Linked DNA regions of Homo sapiens. The protein of the gene in region 1 interacts with the protein of each later gene in a pairwise test. Each region holds a gene or a part of one and is shown on either strand. Other genes may lie near its edges.

What was found. Proteins that work in one complex are often made in the same cells at the same time.
Region 2: the proteins of KRTAP9-3 (region 1) and ZNF439 interact in binary tests that used the Homo sapiens proteins (3 or more experiments, as listed by UniProt).

The regions. Positions count from the first base shown.
Region 1 is NC_000017.11:41,228,210-41,234,007, forward strand, and holds KRTAP9-3 (keratin-associated protein 9-3), read left to right. Parts: upstream 1-4,239; 5' UTR 4,240-4,292; coding exon 4,293-4,772; 3' UTR 4,773-5,245; downstream 5,246-5,798. UniProt on the Homo sapiens protein: In the hair cortex, hair keratin intermediate filaments are embedded in an interfilamentous matrix, consisting of hair keratin-associated proteins (KRTAP), which are essential for the formation of a rigid and resistant hair shaft through their extensive disulfide bond cross-linking with abundant cysteine residues of hair keratins.
Region 2 is NC_000019.10:11,851,698-11,858,750, reverse strand, and holds part of ZNF439 (zinc finger protein 439), read right to left. Parts: intron 1-7,053. UniProt on the Homo sapiens protein: May be involved in transcriptional regulation.

The DNA.
Region 1 (5,798 bases):
ATGTAAATAAAATTCTTACACAGCCTCCCCCTCCTGAATACCTGTTGACAAAGTCAATGAAACTAAGTTATTCCTTGTAAAATACAGACCACACCTTATGCCACATTAAGACAATTTGTCCCCTAATCGAAATGTTATGAGGAAAATTAAGTAAGGAATTAAGCTGGGAATTGAGAAAGTACGCAATGGGTATGTAAGACGTGGCACAATCCATAATCTCTAAACCAAGGAAGGGAATGAAAGAACCTTCTGAATTTTGTAAGACCAATATGAGGCATCTAAAGAAACTGAAAACGGTGTTTGCAGGGAAATCAGAAGAATGTAAGAAAGGAGCAAAGTAGAACGTGTGCATTCATAGAAGTCATGATAGACAGAGGTTGGTGCTTTTGGTTCTGAACTGGTGCAAGCTAAGCATTCACTCAGGGAAAGATAGATTGATACTGGCTCTGAGAGAAATACAAAGTTTGGGGACCTGGGTCACCTTCTTGCGACCTCCTACCAGCATGGGAGTGGTAGAAATACCTCTGATGAGCTAACAATGTAGATTTCCATGACAGATGCCAACTTCTGAGACTGTGAATCTAGAATGCTCTGAAGACTTGGCTGAGGGATGAAGGCCACTTACTGTGATCATCGTTCAGGGATGAAGTAAAGGACATGAAAACTAGGACATTCCTTTTGACTAGCATCAGTTATGAAAGGTGAATAAGTTCAGCATGTCTACTGTACAGTAGTGTCACTATAGTTGTAAACACTGTATCATACACCTGAAATTTGCCAAGAAGTTAGATCTTATATGTTCACACCACAAAAATAAAAAGGAAATGGTAACTACGTGGGCTAATAAACATGTTATTCACAATGGATATATATATTAGAGCATCATCTTCCATACCTGAAATAGACACAATTTTTATTTGTCAATTACACCTCAATACAGCTCGAAAAAGTATTTGGTTGATCTGGTTAATTATTACAAAAATATTCTTATCTTCAACATTAAAATTAGAAATTTTCTGAACAAAAACACTAATTCTGGGCTGCCTGCTATAGGAGACATATTGGCTAAATGCTTTGTGTACACTATTATTAATTCTTTTTTTTTTTTTTTGAGATGGAGTCTTGCTCTGTCACCCAGGCTGGGGTGCAGTGGTACAATCTTGACTCACTGCAAGCTCTGCCTCCCTGGTTCATGCCATTCTCCTGCCTCAGCCTCTCGAGTAGCTGGGACTATAAGCACCCGCCACCACGCCCGGCTAATTTTATGTATTTTTAGTAGAGACGGGGTTTCAACATTTTAGCCAGGATGGTCTCGATCTCCTGACCTTGTGATCCGCCCGCCTCGGCCTCCCAAAATGCTTGGATTACAGGCGTGAGCCACTGCACCCGGCTATTATTAATTCTTTAACAAACTTTCAAAACAGGTATTAATGTTCCCTTTGTAGAGATGAAAAAATTGAGGCTGAGAGAGTTAGTGTATTGTCATAGATTAGTTTCTCCCAGAAGAGACTCTGAGGAAAGCATTCCAGTGAAACTAGTTTATTCGGAAGTGCAGATCACACTGGTAGGGATTGGGGAAGTGATACAGAAAAGGGTACACTATCAAGTCAGTATCACAGTCACCAACTAAAGCTTAAACTAAAGGGAAAACTATCAGAAATGACAAAAAAACACACAGCTAGAGTTATCCTACTTCAGGAATGAGGAAGCTAGAGTCTTTATAAATCAGCTCTCCAGAATCATTGGTTGAGAGTTTTTCTCTGTGTTGCATTCACAGGTGACATGACTTCTTACAGCAGCAATACAAGAGCTCTTAGGCACAGAGATGCAGATTCTAACAGATGGAAATTAGTCCAAGCACACTAAGATCTAATATATATGGGTGCAGTCATGAAAACTTATCTATGATCTACAATTAGCTCCACTCAAGTAAAACCTTTGCTACTTAAATGTGATGGACAGGCACAAGCTCTAGAAGAAGGAAGAAGAGGAGGTGAGAAAGAGGAGTAAGAGAAGGGACAGAAGATGAGTGGAGGACAAAAGAAAGAAAGAGAGAGAGAGAAAGAGAAAAAGAAGGAAGGAAGGGAGAGAGAGAGAAAGAAAGAAAGAGAGAAAGAAAGAAAGAAGAAAGAAAGAAAGAGAAAGAAAGAAAGAGAAAGAAAGAAAGAAGAAGAAAGGAAGGAAGAAAGGAAGGAAGAGGAAGGAGAGAGAAGAAGGAAATGAAAAGAAAGGAGAGGAAGTGAGATGTAAAATGAAGGCCAATGAAATAAGCTACACTTACTGCTGCTATAGTACAGTGCACCTGAGATTCACAGTCTCCGTTTATTACCACCAGTTCTATTCTCCCTTCACCGCTGGCCAGCACTCTTCTTGGTCTGGATAACTGCCTGATAACTGCCTTGATAACTTCCTTCCTAAATTGTCTGAGCCTCTAGTTACTATACCACTGTCCACTGTGATTGCTGTTCTTACCGATTTGTAGTTATCACTGGACATGGACACACTATGAGATTCTCCAGTGTTATGGGTTAATTTGTGTCCCCCAAAACTCATATTCAAATAGAATCATTTAAAGTGTTATGTGATAAGGCAAGGTCATATTGGAAACAATTAGGCCTCTGATTAAATATGACTGATGTCTATATAAAAGGGGGAAATTCAGAGACAGCATGCATATAACAGAAAAATTATATCAAACACACATGGAAATGATAGACATCAACAAGTCAAGGAGAGAGACCTGGAACATGTACTTCCCTCACAGGCTTCAGATGAAAACAACATTGCCAAAACCTTAATTTCTGAACTGTGAAAAGATAAATTTAAGCCACTTGGTTTACAGTAATTTATTATGGCAGTGCTGGTAAGTTAATACACTTACTAAGTATCCTGAGCTATAGATATATTCTGCTACACTATATGGCTTAAAGATAATTACCCCTCACCAAATAGTAACTCCTTTCTCTGTCTGCTGCTCTGCTGACGGGAAGAGTCCAAAATGACTAGGCGATAACGATTCCTTTTGATTATAACAAAGAAACAGAGAAGCAAATACTATAATTTTTATTCACATGGAAATTTTAAAAAGCCAAAGTCATCTACTGGATTATAACTTGATAGAGTGATTAGCTGTTTGGAAATGAGTAAGCGGATATAATTGGGAGAGAATGGCATTAATTTCTATTTCCTAACCTGGTAATGGGGACATAGATGTATTTACAATGTAATACTATATCAGGTTGGAAATTAATAATTTGCATTCTTCTCAAGTGAATGATATACCTAGACAATGTTTTCAACATGTTAGAACTCCACGATGAATCAGGTGTCATCTCAACTCATCTAATCCCTTCATTGAAAAGAAATAGAAGAAATTACTTCTACTTACTTCTTCTTCTAGTTACTGCTAGTAACTAGGTTTAGGGCTAGAGCCACAGCACATGCTGGTTGGCCTGAATTTCAACGCTTACTTCTAGTTACTGCTAGTAACTAGGTTTAGGGCTAGAGCCAGAGCACATGCTGGTTGGCCTGAATCTCAAGAAGTTACGTGATAGAAAGTCCTCCATTCTCATCCCGGAAATCCCCACACTCCCAGACAAGTCAGAATGAATGGTCGTCCTAGGGCATACATTGCTTGATGCTGTCTAAATCTCAGCAGATTTCTCTGCATCCACCTGTTCTCGATCTGCTCTGTCGCATGGAACACACTGTGCAGTCACCGTCTTCCCAAGTGACATTCAAAGAACTGAAAGACACAGATGATGTGGGTGGCACAAAGAGATGCCTGTTAGTCTTGAGTCAGAATTTGGTGGGTGAATAGTCTTGGGCCCAGGCATGGATTCATTTTGTCACTGTAAATATATCAGCATCATGCTTCTCCCCACAGACACTTCCAAGTCTATATACAGCCAAACATGAGGCTGGCCAGAGAGAACTTCCTGAGCCCCCCGGATCAACAGGAACTGTCACATGACCAGATGATGGTCAGAGCAGGAATGATGCTGATGATGAGACGGGCTTCCTTTTATCTGAAACAAACTTTCTATGAGTAACTCACAATTAAGAAACAGATTAAACCCTTAGTTTAAAAGGTTCATAAGATTTCAGTAACAACTTCCCCTTTGACAATCCCAAATGGACTGTGGAAAACAATGTAAACAGCAACAAGGAAAAGTCCTGCTGATTGGTGGAAACTTTGGAGGCCAGGTGTATAAAAGGTCCAGATTGCAAGGGGTCATCAGATTTTGGGAAACTCACCTCTTAACAGAAGCCCACCCTCCATCCCTGACACCATGACCCACTGTTGCTCCCCTTGCTGTCAGCCTACCTGCTGCAGGACCACCTGCTGGCAGCCCACCACTGTGACCACCTGCAGCAGCACACCCTGCTGTCAGCCCTCCTGCTGTGTTTCCAGCTGCTGCCAGCCTTGCTGCCACCCAACTTGCTGTCAAAACACCTGCTGTAGGACCACCTGCTGCCAGCCCATCTGTGTGACCAGCTGCTGCCAGCCTTCCTGCTGTAGCACACCCTGCTGCCAGCCCACATGCTGTGGGTCCAGCTGTGGTCAGAGCAGCTCCTGTGCACCTGTGTACTGCAGAAGAACCTGCTACCACCCCACAAGTGTTTGTCTGCCTGGTTGCCTAAACCAGAGCTGTGGCTCCAACTGCTGCCAGCCCTGCTGCCGCCCAGCCTGCTGTGAGACCACCTGCTGCAGGACCACTTGTTTCCAGCCCACCTGTGTGTACAGCTGCTGCCAGCCTTCTTGCTGCTAATCAACTCCCAAGAGAACTACCATCCTCACACAACAACCTTCAGCTCAACTGACTTGTCTTTTGAGGGACTAATTTACTTTGCTGCTGACAGCCACCATGCTCTCACCCAAATTTTTATGAATTCTCTACATGTTTAAAATCTTGGGAATCTGCTTGAGGGAGGGCAGAATACTTCATCCTCATTCCCTCTTTCCTTACACCTTGTGGATCATGTGCCAGCTTCGTCTGTTCTTAATTTGGAGTCATGATCTCAGCTTTGTCTCAAAAATCAAGAGCTTCATTCTTTGCTTCTAAGGAATTTAGGTTTCTGCAACTGATCAATCATCTTTGCAATTATATTTTCATTTTAAATATCCTTCTCATGGTTCTTGTATCCTTCTTTCTTCTTTTCACGATAACTTTGGGTTATGTCTCTGGTAGCAGAGATTCTTACCTATATGTTTCTGAATAAACTCTGAACCATCTTCATCTCATATAGTGTTTTGTTTTATTTGAAAGCATTCCTGATATGGGATTTACACACATATCACATACCATAGGTATTATCCAATTTGATTCTCAAAACAGATGGTCGTGTATTATTAACTCCATTTTTTCAGCTGAGAACAATTTAATGTGTGATGTTATGTAGCTAGTAAAGGGCAGACTCTGGTCAAAGGTGAGGTCCTCTCTTTCTGCCCAAGGACACTTACGTTTAACTCCCAATATAGTAGAAAAGACACTGGAAGTCAGCACTAGCAAGACATGTACTTGAGTTTATTTAACAATGAGAGGAATAATCTGACATATTTGCAGATAACACTTTTGTTCACACACAAAAAAATCCCAAAGTAGTTCCCCACACCTCAGTGAGCAAAGGCTGCATGATATGCATTTAATGGCTGCCCTGAATGCAGAGATCTTTTTGTCTGAGCCTCTGACCAGCCATTCATTCAATTCATCTGCATCAAAAAATGCTTGAGAATTTATTGTGGACTCAGGAGACGGAGCCTCATCTGAAGAAACTTATTCTCAGTGTGATGTAAA
Region 2 (7,053 bases), on another chromosome or scaffold:
TGGGTGGATCAATGGCCCCTATCACAGGAGAAACTAACTCAACTTCAGCAGTAGAAAAAGAGCAACTGGATGCAGGCCATAAAGAGGAGTCGGTTAGCCACTGGAATTCACCAGTGTTTGTAATTCCAAAGAAGTCAGGAAGATGGCGACTGCTGCATGATTTGAGAGCTATTAATGCACAAATTAAACTGATGGGTGCATTACAACAAGGCTTGCCATCTGCAGCCGTCATTCCTAGAGACTGGCCTCTTGTAGCAATAGACCCCCTTTTTTTTTTTTTTTTCCGAGATGGAGTCTCGCTCTGTCGCCCAGGCTGGAGTGCAGTGGTGCGATCTCGGCTCACTGCAAGCTCCGCCTTCCGGGTTCACGCCATTCTCCTGTTTCAGCCTCCCAAGTAGCTGGGACTACAGGTGCCTGCCACCATGCCTGGCTAATTTTTTTTTTTTTTGTATTTTTAGTAAAGACGGGGTTTCACCATGTTAGGCAGGATGGTCTTGATCTCCTGACCTCATGATCCACCCACCTCGGCCTCCCAAAGTGCTGGGATTACAGGCGTGAGCCATTGCGCCCGGCATAGACCTTTCTTTACTATACCCTTACACGAGAAGGATAAGCCTGGATCTGCCTTCTCTGTGCCTTCTATTCATCCAAGAGAACCTGTTTCTCTTTATCAAAGGAAAGTTTTACCCCAAGACATGCTTTACAGTCCTACGCTGTCAGCATTTTGTAGGACAAACATTGAAGGAGACTCTGAATATGTTTCCTACTGCTCACATCATTCATTTCATGGATGACATTCTTTTGGCCACTCCTACAGATCAAATCTTACATCAGTTATTCAGAGAAAGGAAGCAGGCTTTGACTAAATGGAATCTCAAAATTGGTCCAGAGAAAGTACAAGCAACTTCCCCATACCATTACTTAGGCACTATTGTTACTGAAAGAAGTGTTCGGCCTCAGAAAGTAGTTCTCCATAAAGACAGGTTACAGATTTTAAATGATTTTCAACAGTTGTTAGGGGATATTCATTGGCTGTGCGCAATGCTAGGTATTGCAACTTATCGACTCAAACATCTTTATCAAACCCTGCAAGGAGATTCTTCATTAGATTTCCCCGCAGCAATTGACCAAAGAGGCAGAAGCTGAGTTGCAACTTGTAGAACAGATGCTTCAGCAGAGACATGCCTCATGGCTGTAGCCGCAAAAGCCTTTGCTTATTCTTCATACCCCTCATTCTCCAACAGGACTCCTGGGCCAGTGCTTAGACAAGTCTGTATCAGTAATAGAATGGCTCTTTCTACCTAATCAAACAGTTAAAACCTTGCAAGCCTATCTTCCTTTAATTACACAACTTGTGACTATAGGTAGGCATAAATTAAAAGTGCTTATGGGGTATGATCCAGACGCAATTATTGTTTCCTTGGATTCCCAACAACAGGCCACAGCATGGGAAATATCGACTGTGTAGCAAATTGCTCTTGCAGATTTTGTGGAAATAATAGACAACCACTCTCCATCGGACAAAGTTTTACAATTTTATAATGTCTATTATTTTATCTTCCCTGTGATTACTCATCACGAGCCTATTCCAGGTGGTCAGGCCTATTTTACCGATGGCTCTTCCAAAGGGCGTGCAGCTATGTTGGGACCTAAACATACTCAGACAATAAGGATCTCTGGACTTTCAGCTCAACGCTCAGAGTTAATTACAGTCATTCTAGTTTTAGAGCTCACAGCTTCAACTCCCATTAACATTGTCTGTGATTCAGCCTATGTCGTAAATGTAGCCAGTCGCATAGAAACTGCTACAATTAAAAGCACACTAGAGCCAGAACTGCTTAGCTTGTTTCTAAGACTTCAACAAGCTGTTCGCTCTCATGCTGCTCCTTTACATATTTCTCATATTTGCTCTCACATACAACTCCCTGGACCACTATCTCTAGGTAATGATAGAGCAGATAAACTGGTTTGTTCTGTATTTCAACAAGCTCAAACTTCTCAGGCAATACTGCCTCAAAACACCTCGCCCTTACTCGTATGTTTCACCTGCCTCACAGCCAGGCTCGAACTATGGCGCAAGCCTGTCCCACTTGTCAGCATGTCCCTGGTGTTATACCTGTGGAAGGATGCAATCCACAAGGCTTGGCTCCAAATGAAATTTGGCAGATGGATGTTACACATATAGCAGCCTTTGGCAAGCTTAGCTATGTTCATGTAACTATAGACACTTAATCTCATATGCTGCATTCTACATGCCAAACAGGCGAGACAGCTGCTCATGTGCGGTGACATTGTCGGTCATCATTTGCTCATATGGGGATCCCTAAACAATTAAAAACGGACAATGGACCTGCTTATACTTAGCCATGTTTTTCAAAACTTTTTACAGTTATGGGCAATCACCCACAAAACAGGAATACCTTACAATCCCTGAGGACAAGGCATTATAGAGTGGGCACATCAAACATTACAATGCATGTTGAAAAAACAGAAAGGGGGTATAGGAGACCAGCTACCACCTCAAATAAAATTACATTTAGCCTTATTTACTTTAAATTGTTTGACTCCTGGTCTGGATGGTAAGACTCCAGCAGAAAGACATTGGCAAGTGTTAGAGGAAAAGAGGAAAGTTTATCTGAAAGTGTTATGGAAATCCCTGGAAGAAGGACAATGGAAAGGTCCGGTGGATTTACTGACATGGGGATGAAGGTATGCTTGTGTTTCTACAGGAGATGGACACACCATGTGAGTGCCCTCAAGGTGCGTGCCACCATGGAACGGGAAACTGGAGGGACCCATGGTGGCCAACAATGGGCTTGGTCCCTCCGGTACAACCCATGAGCCAGCTGAGCCTGAGTGTGAAGACGGAGAGAAGGCTGACCGGAGTCACAACGACATCAACCCCCATAACCTGGGGACAACTCAAGAAAACCATGCAAGAAGCTGAGAAACTACTGGAGCGTCAGGGACAGGCAAAAACCCCTGATGCCATGTTCTTGGCCTGTCAGCCATAATGTCCTGTGCAGTATGTTTTCCCTGTACAGAGGTAAAAACATATTGGGCATATGTTCCCAATCCCCCAGCAGTACGGCCTATACTTTGGAGTGACGCTCTTTCTGAAATCTATCATGATCAGGGACCGTGGGCTCCAGGACCCCTAACTCCCCATGGCATAGAACAGTTAGACTCTTAGAACAATGTCATCAATTATACCACCCCACTAGAAGGACTCCCTTTGTGTATCACCACAGAGATGTCACTCAACAGTAGCTGTCTTATAATTCAAGCTCAAGCATGGTGGAATCACTATGGAAAAGTCATGTACTTATTATGTTTTGGTTCCATTAATGTAACTGGTGTGCTAACCAACCATTCCCGGCCCAGTCGCCCCACCTGTGCTGACTATATGGAATGGATTCCCTTCCATAGTTCCTACCCCCCTCCATGGACCCAGAGTCTTGGCCCATAGAAAACAATCTATGTTAACTGCAGACATTGTGGATTGGGGACCTAAAGGTCAACTACATGGAAAAGATGAAAATTAGAAATCATGGCACAAACTTGGCTGGCATTGGTGGTAAGCTTTTAATACTTCTTCTTTATACCACACCGGGATCCAATCCCAGTCTGCTGCCCAGATTGCTTGGTGTGGAGCAGGCTTTAGCTCACCTCTTCCTCAGTGGCATTATCCAGGCAGGCAAGGACCAATCCAAAAGACGTTATGGAAGGCAGCACCTTCATTTATGAATGGCAGCATCGGGGTTGGGATACTATCCAATAATAGCAATAGTAAGCAACACAGTTTTAATGCTACACTTGTAAAGAATATCACCACTCAGTTTACGGTTTGTGTTTTTAATCCTTATGTCTTTTTGGCAGCTAAGAAGGATTAGCTCCAGGTAAACAATACCCAATTGACCTGTAAATCTTGTCAGTTATATCACTACATTAATCATAGCACATTGCAAATACATAATATCTCTTTTTTTTTTTTGAGACAGAGCCTTGCTCTGTTGCCAAGCTTGAGTGCGGTGGCACGATCTCGGCTCACTGCAACCTCTGCCTCCTGGGTTCAAGCAATTCTCCTGCCTCAGCCTCCTGAGTAGCTGGGATTACAGGTGCCCGCCACCATGCCTGGCTAATTTTTGTATTTTTAGTAGAGACGGGGTTTCACCATGTTGGCCAGGCTGGTCTCGAACTCCTGACCTTGTAATCCACCTGCCTTGGCCTCCCAAAGTGCTGGGATTACAGGCGTGAGCCACTGTGCCTGGCCACAAACACATAATATCTCTACTTTGATGATTTTGGGTTGCATCCCTGGGCTATGGATTCCCATTAATCTGTCCAAGCCTTGGGCTGCCACCCCTGCTTTGCACTTTGTGAAACTTCTTCTAACTCAGCTTACTCATCGTGCCCGTAGAGCCTTAGGCATGATAATTTTGGCTATTGTTTCCTTGGTCACACCAAAAACTTCTGTTGTGATGTACTCCATCACTTTGCATAGTTCTATTCAAACAGTTCAGTACGTGCAGAACTGGATGCATACAGCCAACCAAGTGTGGCTACTTCATAATAGAATTAACACTGAGTTACAAACTGAAGTGGCAATGTTGAAATCCATAGTTCTATGGTTAGGGGAACAAGCACAAAGCTTACAATTGCAACAGCAATTGTGCTGTCATCTTAATGCCACTCATATTTGTGTAAACAACTTAGAATACAACCAAAGTGAGCATCCACGGGACCTTTGATATTGGTGAACTGCAAAACAAAATTCTTGACTTAAATAAGCAAACTCAAGAGTTTCAGCCTTCCTTAGAAGTCTGGAGTGAATTCCTGCAAGGCCTAGAGAGCCTCAATATTTGGACCAATCTAAAGCACTATATTAACATCTCATATATAGTTATTGGAATGATGTTGTTTAGTCTCTGTTTTTTGTTCATAGTCTGTAAAATCAGATGGACCGCCAATCAGAAAATGAGAGCTGCCCAACCTGGCCTTACATTCATTCAATTAATGCATAAACAGAAAGGGAGAGATGTTGGGAGCCCAAGGCCCAAAGGTTGTGACCAACTCAGCTTTCCACTGAAGGCTATATGATAAACAGTGAACTGTTTATCATGAATGCAGAATGTGGGCAAACTCACATCTGCTTCTGCTGCCAGAAGGTATACTGAGGACAATCACTCCCTGGTGCTGTGCTGCTTGAGGTTATCTACTGGGACATCTGGAGCCTATTGTTTGAAAAATGCAGTCATGCAGGCCTGCTCTAAATCAAGTAGCTGACCTACAACCACCCGCTTCTCTCTATCCCCTTTACTCAGTAAACATGAAGGGTGCTAGAAGCTCGGGGCCCACGTTCACTACAAGCAAGAAGCCCCCTGACCCCTTGTTCCAAACATATTCTTTTGCCTTTGTCTTTATTCCCGCATTCGTCCTCCTTTGTTCAATCCAGTAGGGTCCGTGGTACCTAACGACCCTGAAATCAAATTGAAATACAACTCTTGAAAATTACTAATTTAGGCCAGGCGTGGTGGCTCACACCTGTAATCCCAGCACTTTTGAGAGTCCAAGGCAGGTGGATCACGAGGTCAAGAGTTCGAGACCAGCCTGGCCAACATGGTGAAACCAAGTCTCTACTAAAAATACAAAAATTAGCCAGGCGTGGTGGCAGGCGCCTGTAATCCCAGCTTCTCAGGAGGCTGAGGCAGGAGAATCGCTTGAAACTGGAAGGCAGGGGTTGCAGTGAGCCGAGATTGCACCACTGCACACCACCCTGGGCAACAAGAGTGAAACTTCGTCTCAAAAAAAATAAATAAATAAAATTACTAATTTATAGAAAAATGAAATTTATGCTTAATCAGGCACAGTCCACCAATTAACCTCTGATTACATAACTAGAAATTTTCTACCTATATAGGCTGTTGGAAGAAGTAAGTCAGGCCAGCCATGGTGGCTCACACCTGTAATCCCGCCACTTTGGGAGGCCAAGGTGGGTGGACCACTTGAGGACAGGAGTTGGAGACCAGCCTGGCCAATGTGATAAAACCCTGTCTTTACTAAAAATACAAAAATTAGCCGAGTATGGTGGCATGTACCTGTAATCCCAGCTACTTGGGAGGCTAAGGCAGGAGAATTACTTGAACCTAGGAGGTGGAGGCTGCAGTGAGCTGAGATTGCACCACTGCACTCCAGCCTAGACGACAGAGTGAGACCCCGTCTCAAGACAAACAAACAAACAAAAACAACCAAGTAATTCAAATATTTAAGCTGGTGCATCTCTAAACTGTCTTGAAGCAATGTGATCATGGGGTTGAGTCACATGACACACAGCTTTCAAATAGCCAGCTGGAACACCTCTTTCCTTGATTACAGATTCGCCTTCCTTCTTACCTATACTGTTTTATAAAATGTTGTAAATGACTGAAGGGAAACAGGAAAGACCCTTTCCCTCTTTGCTATTTTTAATTTATTTAATATGATTTTTCACAATTGAGATGGGGGGTCTCACTATGTTGCCCAGGCTTGAACTCCTGAGATCAAGCCATCCACCTGCCTCAGCCTCCCAAAGTGCTGGGGTTACAGGTGTGAGCCATCCCACTGGGCCCCTCTTCACTACTGATCTCTGTAGTAGACTAACTTCCCTCTTAACTTTCTCACACAAAGACTTCATGGCTATCACATTGTCTTCAGTTGGAATGTTGAATTCACTCTTTTAAATTGAAAAGGAAATAAAAACCAGCTAGAAAGAAAAGAAAACAAGCTCTGGGGGAAAAAAGCAAACGATAACAAATTAAGTTGTTAGCCAGGTGCACTGGCTAACGCCTGCAATCCCAAGACTTGTGGAGGCCAAAGAAGGAGGACTGTTTGAGGCCAGGAGCTAGAGACAAGCCTGGGCAATGTATCGAGACCCCACCTCCATAAAAAATTAAAAATTACCCAGGTGTGGTAGTGGGCGACTATAGTCTCAGCTACTTGGGAGGCGGAGGTGCTCAAGATGGGGAAGTCAAGGCTGCAGTAAGCCGTGATGGCACCACTGCTCCAGCCTGGGCC